Linked DNA regions of Homo sapiens: region 2 is linked to region 1. The links come from fine-mapping of genetic effects on gene expression. A gene starts in region 1. The other region holds a variant in brackets. All regions are shown on one strand. Distances are between the middles of the regions.

What was found. PIP is the estimated chance that this variant, and not a neighbour inherited with it, causes the effect. A credible set is the group of variants that fine-mapping cannot tell apart.
Region 2: its variant is the best candidate, but not a certain one, in a credible set for the expression of SGCD in thyroid (GTEx, PIP 0.65).

Annotation. Positions count from the first base shown.
Region 1 is chr5:156,324,205-156,329,739 of GRCh38, reverse strand. SGCD (sarcoglycan delta) reads right to left here and starts at 2,576. Exons shown (of 9, transcript NM_000337.6): 1 at 2,508-2,576; 2 at 161-206. The coding sequence starts at 163. All of the region lies in intron 2 of LOC124901120 (a long non-coding RNA gene), which reads left to right.
Region 2 is chr5:156,456,871-156,461,870 of GRCh38, reverse strand. The region is part of intron 3 of SGCD (sarcoglycan delta); the gene reads right to left. Among named protein-coding and RNA genes, the nearest start is that of SGCD, 130 kb to the right of the region's middle. The variant T/C (reference allele first, on the strand shown) is at 2,613.

The DNA of each region.
Region 1 (5,535 bases):
GGCCTGCAGATTTTTTAAAATAAAAAAGTAAAATTAAAGAAATGTCTTCATCAGGATAAGGCATATATAACACTTTGTTCTCTTTTTCAAAAGTTTATGTTAATAATAAAATGACCATGAGCAGGGCCTTGAACAAGCTTCGCTCCCGGGAATTACTCACCATCTCCACCTGGTCCCTTCACTCAACACTCCCGGCAGTAATGTCTCTGCAAGGAACAAATATGGGTTAAAAATAAGGTCTGAAGAGCCTGCCCCCTCCTTGCCTAGGAAATCTGAACCCTCAGGCAATGCCATTCTTACAAAATGTGCTTTCTGATTACTTCCAGAAGGCAGGGCAGGCTGACCATGCAGTCTCCTGTGGTGAAGTGGCTAAAACAATTCTCTTCACCAAGGCCACTGAGTATCTGCACACCTCCAGTCCAACAAATCAGTGCCTGGTGGCTTTGGCTATTTCTAATACATGTGTTTCATTCCTGTGCCAAGGGCTCCTCCCTCCACCCTCACTGCCCAGTTTGTGTTGTGGCCATTCCTCTCCCTTCACTGCCTCCACCTCTGTCCTGGATTTCTTCCTCTGTATCCTTCCCCCTTCCGCTGCTTACTTTTTCTCTTCAGATGTCAAGAGAGCTTGACTTCTCCCTACTTTACTTCTAAAAAAGAGAGAAACTATAGAGTTTCTACCAAGTTTCAAGCACTGCTCTTTATAATCCTGCAACCTGGAGTTGCTATTTCACGCCTCTTCTGCTCAATGCTTGACGCACGCTAAATATAGAGGAGTATGACACCCGAGCTCATGGAAGGCTCCCTTTTTCATTGGCAGTGGGCTTGACTACGGTTCATGCCAGTTCCTAATCTGTCTTGGCATTTTTCTCACTCATTAGGCACTTTAGAGAAAAAAATAAGGTCACAGTCCATCCTGACTTCTAACTACACCCCCTTCCTTTCCTCAAGCCCTGCAGTCCCCAAACCCTCCCCACACCACCCCAACACGAAGATGAAACTAATAAAGAAAATGTTCATGAACCATCTCTTAAAGATATCCTGCTGCCAGTCCTGTCCCAGGTCCCTCCTCCAAGTACAACACTTGGAAGAAAAAAGAAAATCGCTGGCTGAAAATCCTGACCTTCTACCAACAGGACAGAATGTGTGCCTTCTCATTCTAGGTCTTATGCAGAGGAAGCAATGAGAAATGCTGGCTCTCCACTTTTCTTTCAGCATTAACTTCAGGCTCTTCTATTAGCTACTTGTTTAAAGATTGTAGGACACAAGTAAATGCACACCTGTTGTCACAGAGATCCACCCTAAGAGGTCTAGTCACTCTTCAGCTACTCAAGAAGTATCCAAGATTCCATTCATTCATCCATCTCCCCAACCAGACTTTTGGCCAAGCCCCGTTCGGAAAAAACCAATGTTGTCACAGATTGCTGTGCTAGTAATTGTAAAGCAGTTGTAAGGTTTAGCTCGGCTTTGGGCTGAACCAGTCTCTCAAATGCAATGACATTGTACTGTGTGTTTTCTAAATGCTGTACATAAAACAAGGTATAGCTTTCCTATGAGAGGAAAAAATCTATACTGCAATAGAGTTGATAAAGAAGAACCAAAACTGAAGAGGAACACTAAGATCCCTGTTGTGCTGAAAATTTTTAAAACTTTGATTTTTATAAAAAGCTCTTTTGCAGTAAGGTGTAAAATAAAACCAAGAGATCAATGAAATAAAATTCACACCATCATGTCTCTGTCCTTTAAGAAGAATTTTGAGTAAACTGCCATTTTCTGTTACTTTTTTATTATCTATGTTTCCTAAAATACAGAAGTGTTTTTTGAGAGTAAAACTGCAAATTACTTCAAGTGAGAAAATTGGAAATGATTATAGAAACAGAATTACAAATGTTGATCCAGCATAATTCTAGGCAAATATATCACTGACAGTCAAATCCCAGATAATGACAGTCAAACTCCTATATAAAAGATTTTAGAAACCCATACACACATATCTGTTTCGACACTCTGAAAGTGTCATCCAACGTAGAAACTTCAAACTCTGATTCCCTCCTAAAATGAGAGCCATTTTCTACTATTAAAAAACAACAACAACAAAAAACTCCCCATTAAAACTCTTGCGAAGTGAAGCAAAACACACAGACAGTTTCATCTGAAATTATCTTCCTTGCCAGTGAACGGCCCTTCCACGCAGAAAGGAAAAGTTACAGATGGTTGGAGCAGGGTGACAACATAAGGAATTCACATACTCCTCTTTACACAATAACGTTGCCAGCTAAATCCTAACTTTCAAAAGAAGTCTCTCTGCCCTGCTGAAAATCAGACCTTAAAGGGGGAAAAGCACAGATTGGAGCCCCATGCCAACTGTTTACATGACGGAGTTCTAACTTGCTAATTCACACACACACACATGCACACACTAAAAACTCGGAGTGCCTGCAAATACAGCAGGCAGATAGCTTAGAAAGTGAACAGACGCGTGCAAACGCAAGAACTGAACAGTACCCTACCTCTCTTGTCCGTTTCACAAACCGGCCGATGAAAACCGCCCGCGATCCCAGGGCGTGCTGAGCAGCTCTGAAGGAGGTGGCCACTCGGCCCGCTGAGTGTGTGCAGGCCCAGCCTGCGCTCAGAAGCTGCCCCAGTCAGATTTTCCAACTGCAGAACTGCAGCCAAGTCCCTGCCCATGCCTGAAGAATTTCCTGAACAGCATTCCCGTTCTTTTTCTGACTGCTTTGAAACCGTACTCCGTACTTCAATATGGCTTTGTCAGACCGACTCACAGCTACTGGGCTGTCTCCAGCTATCAATGGGAAACACATGTGTCAAGCACAGGCCGACTCCCCTGCAACAGCGCTCATGGTGTCTGCCGGGCTCATACTCACAACCAGAAAGAAAACTGCTTCTACAACCAATTCTGATTTTTCAGCCATTCTCCACACAGCCTCTGCTCTGTAGTGCTAGATGCTGGAGATAAGTCCTCTCTTTCTTCTGCTCAACACTGCTCCTTTTTCACTTGCTCCTTACACTTGAGTCCCCAGCTGACCCCTGTCAGCCCCCTGAGCTCTTGCCAGTCCTGATAACAAGCTTATTACAGCTGAGAGATGTAAATTCTAATTTGATCTCCCTACCTGCCGCTTCCTAAATCTTTGCTCAAAATTTCAATTGCTTGAGGGGGAGCAATATTTTTAGCATTTCCACACTGGTACAGTTCTTCGGAGCTGTCCCCTCAACCTGATATGTACATTTTTTGCTGCAGCAACTAAAAATAATGCAATTATTTTTCAGGCACTTTTGTTGCTCTCTGTTCTGCAACAGTGCTGGTCCAAAAATGTAACATTTTATAGGCTGTTGGAATGTGTGTTATGGTTATGGAAAATAGAAAAGAGAAAAGAATGTACTTTGAATCAGAATGCGTCCTAATTCTGTGCACCTGTGATTATTTCTGGATGACACTCCCTCAAGATGCCCTGTGTACATTCTGCTGGATTTGATGCTCTACCTTTGACATTTTCCCTTTCCATGCAACAAGAGGAAACCTCAAAACAGGAGGACACCCCTCTTCTCCCACACTGAAAAACCCCCATATCTAAAGAGCCAGAGCAAAGTTGTCAAGGTAACATTGTAGAAAAGAGGTGATTTAAAGAGAGAGGAGCATTTGTTTTGAACTGTTTCTTTTTTCTGTTTTTGGTATTAACATTTTACTTCCAAAAATCACACCCCATTGGCAACTTATTCTAAAGAACTGGCTTGCCAGATTTTAAGTGTTGTATGTTCTTGAGGGGATGTTGTAAGTAATAGGATTCGGTGGGGTCGTGAGTTTAGCATCAAATTACACTGGGCACTTTGAGCAGGATTAGATTTTCGCCTTGGGAAGCAGTGGGGTGGGAGGCGGTGTGGGGAGGTGTGTGTGCACATCTAAGGTCAAGATGCAATTACAGAATCAGATCTTTGGAGTTGGAGACACCCCAGAGATCATCCAATCCAAATTGTTTCCACCCTTCATTTTACAGAGGGAAGTAGAGGCCCAGACAAATGAGATGACTTGTCCAGGGTTTTAAAGACAGTTAATACCAGAGCTGAAGCTAGAAATGGGATTGGTGCTCTCTTTTTCTATCTGCTTTCTCTACTGCAGCATAATTTGGGAAGGTGATATCATCTAGCCTTCTAATCAGATAGCCTGGGTCTAATCTTAGCTCTGCATCTTACTGACTATAAACCCTGGTCAGCTTGCTTAACCTCTCTCGATCTGTTTCCTCATCTGTGAAATGGGAACCATAATAGAATCTACTGGTAGAATTGTTAAGGATTCAGTGAGATAATCTGTGTAAAGTGTTTATGACTGCCTATAAATACATTTCAGTTTACTTTTTTTTTTAATGGAGCAAAATGCAAACCTTTTCTCTAACCTAAAAGCCAAATTGTACTCTCCCATCTAGTGTGAGTTCTAGAATAAAGTATTTGAGTGGCTAGTTTTCTGCTGCTTTAACTTTATGTAATAGGGGCCTGTCACCTTAAACTTGGAGAACTGTCCTGAAGCCTTATTGGAACATTAAGCCAGCTATACCGCTACTTTCCATTTATTCCCTAAATATAACACTGAAGTCTTTCCTTGAGATTAACTCACAGAAAAGAAAAACAGTGAGATCAAATCTGCAGTCAGTTACATGAGGCTGAACAAAGTGTCATTCCAGAGAACTGGGCTTTATACCTTAAGAGCTCAAAATTATCATTCTATAAATAGAAGACTATTAACAATTACAATGTTCATGTTTGGAAATGGCAACGTCCTAAATTAACAATAATAGCAAAATAAAATCCCACAAGTTGAGGAAGAAATCTTTCAGAGAAAATAGCTGCTGCAAATTCTAAAGAATCAGACTTCTACGTGGGGTTCCACAGTCTTTGAGAGCCAGTGGTAGCAAATTGCTAATGAACCGCTTATTGTTTATTATTCACGTTTTATGCCCTGCTTCTTTTCAGGGAAAAAAAAAAAGAAGTTTTAAATAGTTGAAGAAGTTAATCTTGAATGTTCTGGTAATCAATTTAAAAAAAACTCAAGCTGATACTCAGCCCTAATCAAACAATGCTGATATGATTCACGAGACCCTGCCCTCATGTCTCCCCAAAGACTTGTTATGTGGCTCATTTCAATGTGGGCATCTGGAGAGATCTCAGTTTGAGACCCAGCTTTATAACTGCTAGCTAGAAAATCCTGAAAACATACTTAATTCTTCTAATGTTAAGAAATGTTATGCAAAACTTGAAAAATATAGCCAAAAGGTAGTCTTTTTTTTTTCAATATCATATGCGGGAATTGTTTCACAGGCCCTCTCAAGAAGTATTTAAGGGGAATGTCATTTGTTGAAGATAGTTTGCTATTGAAAAACATTTCCAGATTTATTACAGGTACATGTTAACTTGGAGACTTTTATCTGATAAAGATGCAAATAATTTCTTTCCAGTAGAGAAAATAACCTCAAATGTGATGATTTGTTGCCCTCCAGGACATTACCAGTCTTGTACCTAATGTAGTCT
Region 2 (5,000 bases), 130 kb before region 1:
TGCAGAATTTATTTTCCAGGAAGGAAGGAAAGAAACCTGGTCAGTCACAAAGGATATTTTCAGAGGAAGAAAGTCAAATGAGTAAGTGTGAGATTTCTACTTCATATCTCCCTCCTAAGTAGAACCTAAAGGCTTATTGCTCCTTGAGTAAATATGAGTGACTTGGGATTTAATTATGTGAAGTAAAATTATCAACATTAACTCCAGAGTAGAGTCCTTATCTTTCCTGATAAGTAAAAAGGGAAAGGACCCGAGAAAAAAAGAGTGAAAATCCATGGCAAAAATGAATTTATTAACAATATTTTATATATGAAAACTAATTTATAGCCTGAAAGGTTTTTCCCCCTAAGAAAATTATATTTCATTATAGCTATCTTTAATACAAAATTAAAATTGTTTCATTTTATCCGCTTGTTTGTCACATTAAATTTACTCTCATTTCATAGTAATAAAGTTCTCCTCATTTTCTTTCTTCCAGAATTTCTGGTAATGTTATCCTGTTACAGAAACTCCTTTGAGTATATGATGGGTTTTTTGACATTTGTTAACTCAACAGGAAAGACCAAGTACATCAAATAGCCTAATTATATATCTTTTATAAACTATTAAAAAACAATATGCTTTTATAATAAGAATGCAATACACATCTTATACCACATATTCTGACATTTTTACATGCTTTTTAGAATTGACATTACAAAGGGGAAGAGTTGCTGTAAGAAATGAAAAGTCTGGACATAGGCACAGACTCACATTGAAAGGTACTCCTGGTTTAAGAAAAGCCTAGCAAAAGAAAACGGTTTTGTGTGAGCAGCTTCTAAAGTATGCCCTGGAACCACTTTCTCTATGAGCTATTCTGGAAATAAAAATCTCTACTATATCTGTCTATATTTACACACATATTTAATTAATTTCATTATTTCTGTGGCCAAATCATTTTGGGAAATGTTGTGTATTCTATTAACTTCTTGAAGAATGACAAGGCATAGCCACCTGTTCAAGGTTCCAAGAAGCCTGCAGTAAAATGTGATCTGTTTAACTTCACCTCAGTGTTTTGAAAACTTATTTGGTTAGGGAACTCCTTTTTGTGAACCATCTTTTAACATCCTGTAGATGCTGTTATACTGTATCTCTTAATTTAAGACTCTGGGGTTGTGGTATACTAGAGTGAGTCACCCCTTAACTATCTCAGGCTATGAAATAAATGAGCTGAGGGTAACAGGCCCCAGATTATCATTCATTCATTCAGTCAGTCAGTCAGTCACTAACTCATTCATACAACAACATTGATAACCAGACACAATATTTAAGACTGCTCATGCTGGATCCATCACTGTCTGGTCTCTCTGTCTGTGGCATGCCTAACTGGGACCTTTCCCATTCTTCAAAGTTCTGGTCAAATCCCATTTCCTTTATGAATTCTATTGCAGTGCCTATTATCCAGTGGATCTTTCCCATCTTTGAACTCCAAAAGCATTAGCATATGCACAATTATGATAATGATTTCCAGATCTTGATTTCATGTCTAAAATTTTAAACCTTTAAAAGGCAGGGCTATATTTTATTTATTTCAGACTCAAAGACTTAATGTGGTTTTGGTCAAATAAATCATTGTTCAGTTGATATAAGCAGCAACACTGTCCTCTCTGGCTTTATAAATTACATCATCCTAGACTGCCCACAGTTGAGGGTAGTTGTCCCCCTCCTTGAAATGCAGCAATCAATACTACATTTTCTAGTCTCTATTTATAAACAGGAAATTAACTGCCTTCCATCATTGTTCTAATTGACCTTCAGCTCAGGTTTGAAAGGAAAGACCTCAGCCAAACAGAAGCTTTATTGATGGTATCAATCCATTAGTGATGCCTTTGCTTTCATTATAGCGGTGCCATATGCAATAAAGACACATATTTGAATAGTCTGGGTGGAAAGGAGGAGGGGTTATCTAAAGAAGATTTCCCTGTAAATGAGCATGAAATCTTTCAGCCAATACTTACCTCTTCCTTGTTCAAACCCCCAGGGAACATAAAAAAGAAATCCTAGCTAATCTGTAGAAGGAAACAGGAGGTAAATGCATGCTGTCCAGCTGAACCTATGACTTTACACATCAGTTTAGTTAAACCTTGAAAATCGCCTCACTGAAAACAGTTAAGTCAAGATGCTAATTGGCCTTTTCTAATTTTCAATGCAATGATGGTATGTTAAATGGATTAGATACTCTTCTTTAAATCATCAAGCACTTATCAAAGCGCTAATAAATATTTACTACAATTCTTTAAAACATGAGAGAAGACATGGGAAGCAAAGAAAGGGCTCTTCATTTCTTCCTGTGTAAGATGTGGCCACTGAGCTATTTCTGAGTCCCAGAAAAACAAAACAATTCCTCCAAGACACAGGCAAAATGGGAAATAGTTGCCAAACCGTTGACTCTCATTTTCTTAAATTAAGAGACTGTTTTTAACAAATCATTCAAGTGATTCTCATGCACACAGAAGTTTGAAAAGTCCTGTTTTAAGGATTTAATGACTGGGATAGTAAGAGAGACTATTAACTCTCCACTTAGACTACAAGCTTTCTTCTAGAACATTGAACATTGAGTGCAGTGAACCTGT[T/C]TATCTAATGTCCATCTGTCTCAGCACTCAGAATAGTGTAAGCCACATAGTATACACACAATTATGTACTTATAAAGTGGAGGTTGGGAACAAAGGGAGAAGACAAAGACAGGAGGGAAAGAGAAAGGGCAAAAAAGTACTTTATTCAGGGTGCTTGGACTCAGGTGATTTTTTTTCCCTTCACTTTGGCATCTAATCAAGAGATCCTGCACTCTTAGATGGTTTCTGTTGAATGAAAAATAAGATAATTACAATATTCTTTGAAAGGGCTTTATTTTATTCATGATTCAGGTTAAATTCCTTTAAAAAAGAAACCTATCTTTAGCCTCTAAAAAAATCCCTGTTAAAATTGGCATCTTTCAAAGAGTTTCAAGTTTTGAGGGAAAAGAAGAAATTAAAATCCACTGAAGACTCACCATGTTCTAGTCACTTGTTTAAACACTTAACAAAGGCTCTCCCATGTGATTCTCATCATGCTCTTGAAATTCAAGCATCATAGTCCCTGTATTTCAGGTGGATGATCGTGATGTTGGTGATGATGATCATGAGTGAGCTCTTAACAAGGTAACTTGTGTTTATCCTTAACATAGACTATCTCATTTAATTCTTACAATATCTGCATGAATATTGTATTTTTTTCATTTTTACAAATAAAAATCTGAGGTTTAGAGATGTTAATCAAGGTGCTGAATTTTGACATATGCGGTTTGAGGGAAAGAATCACTGGTGTGTCTATTCTGGTTTGTTGTAGGTTAACGAAGCCCTTGTCATTTGCTGACTGTGTTGGGGATGAGCTGCCATGGGGATGGGAATCAGGGTTTGACCCTCAGATTGGTGTCTACTACATCGATCACATCAACAGTAAGTTTTCCTTTTTGGTAAAAGCAAACATATCAGAAAAGTAATCCCCCAAAACCTACAGTCACGCAAAAGAATAAACATGTTACAAAGTGAATTTCCAAAACCCCATTTTCTTAGTGACTAATATTTAACTGAAATGCCTGTCTTGGTATTTGGGGCATGTACATAGAGTTGTCCTTATGGGGACGGAGAGGGAGAAAGTGTGTCTGGCCTGTGTGCCTGCCTGCCTGCCTGCTGGGGAATGAGGATTCTCCTTCAGCACAGGTCTGGGAACCTGTGGGGATCAGAGCTGCTGGGCTCCTCTTTCCATGGCCACTGCACCTTCTGACAGGCTCTTCCTTTCCTTGTGTTTGCCACAGAAAGACTTGGGCGTTGGCACAGTGTGGTTTGTAGGCTGGGACTGGGGAGGGGTTGGCCCACATCAGTGGCTCTGGAAGACATAGCATAGCTGGGAAAGGTCCTAAACCGCCCAAAGTCACTCAGCTAGGTTATAGAAAGGCCTGGACTGGACTCCAGGTCTCTTGGACACCATCACTTGCATACACATATCCCAAATAAGAAAACAAGTTAGAGGAGTTAAATAGTCTCAGAATTCCCAAGCTCTCAAACAGGGACTAGAACACATGTCTCCCAACCAACTGTGAAGTAGGGCATGAGAGACATTTACATTTTTCTGTCCTTACTATGAGCGGCATAGGGAAAGGATTCAGCTTTCATATCTTCTCAGATTACTGTGTTTGCCCCAGGGTCAGATATTACTGGGCAGGGGTCTTGAAGCAAAGGCAGAAATAACAGTGGAGAGAATTTTATTTGCTTCTATGTTTTCCTGAATGTGAGCCAAAACAATAGTATAAATTTGGTGCTTCACTAAATATCCCCAAATATCTAAAGCCACCATTCAGGGATGGAATATTTGATACATTTTTGAATGGATGTGTCAAATACTTACTGTTTTGTGCTTTTTATGGAAATGACTCTGGTTTAAGCATTTAACTTTTGGAAGTTGTAAAGGTTATAAAAGAAATTTAAATTCCTGTGAACAACTACTACATATTCAATCAGCGAATGTCAAGTTGCCCTTTTATATATGTCAGAAATTATTTTAGAGGATCAAAGGCATAGCAAGAGTGACCAACTTGAAGAATGAAAGCAAGTTTTTAAAAAATGCTATTTTAGAAATATTTGTATTTTTAAAGAAAATAAGGTGTCTCTGCTGAAACCCTTACTATTTTGAAGAAATACAGCTTCTGAATGGAGTACAATAAACAAAGATTTTCACACATGGGAAAGCAAATAAGAAAGTTAGCATAAAAATGTGGTTTTGGTTTCTGTTCTAGTAAAATGTAAATAACTGAAGAATGCTACAACTTCAGAAACTAAAAATATTTCCTTAGGCAAATGCTCCAATCAAGCCATGTTCACTGAGACCAAGTTACTTTTGGTTTAATGTGATTTTTTTACTACAATACAGAAAAATAAAATTTTGTCTATATTCTAACCCACAAACCATTTATAATTACTAAATGT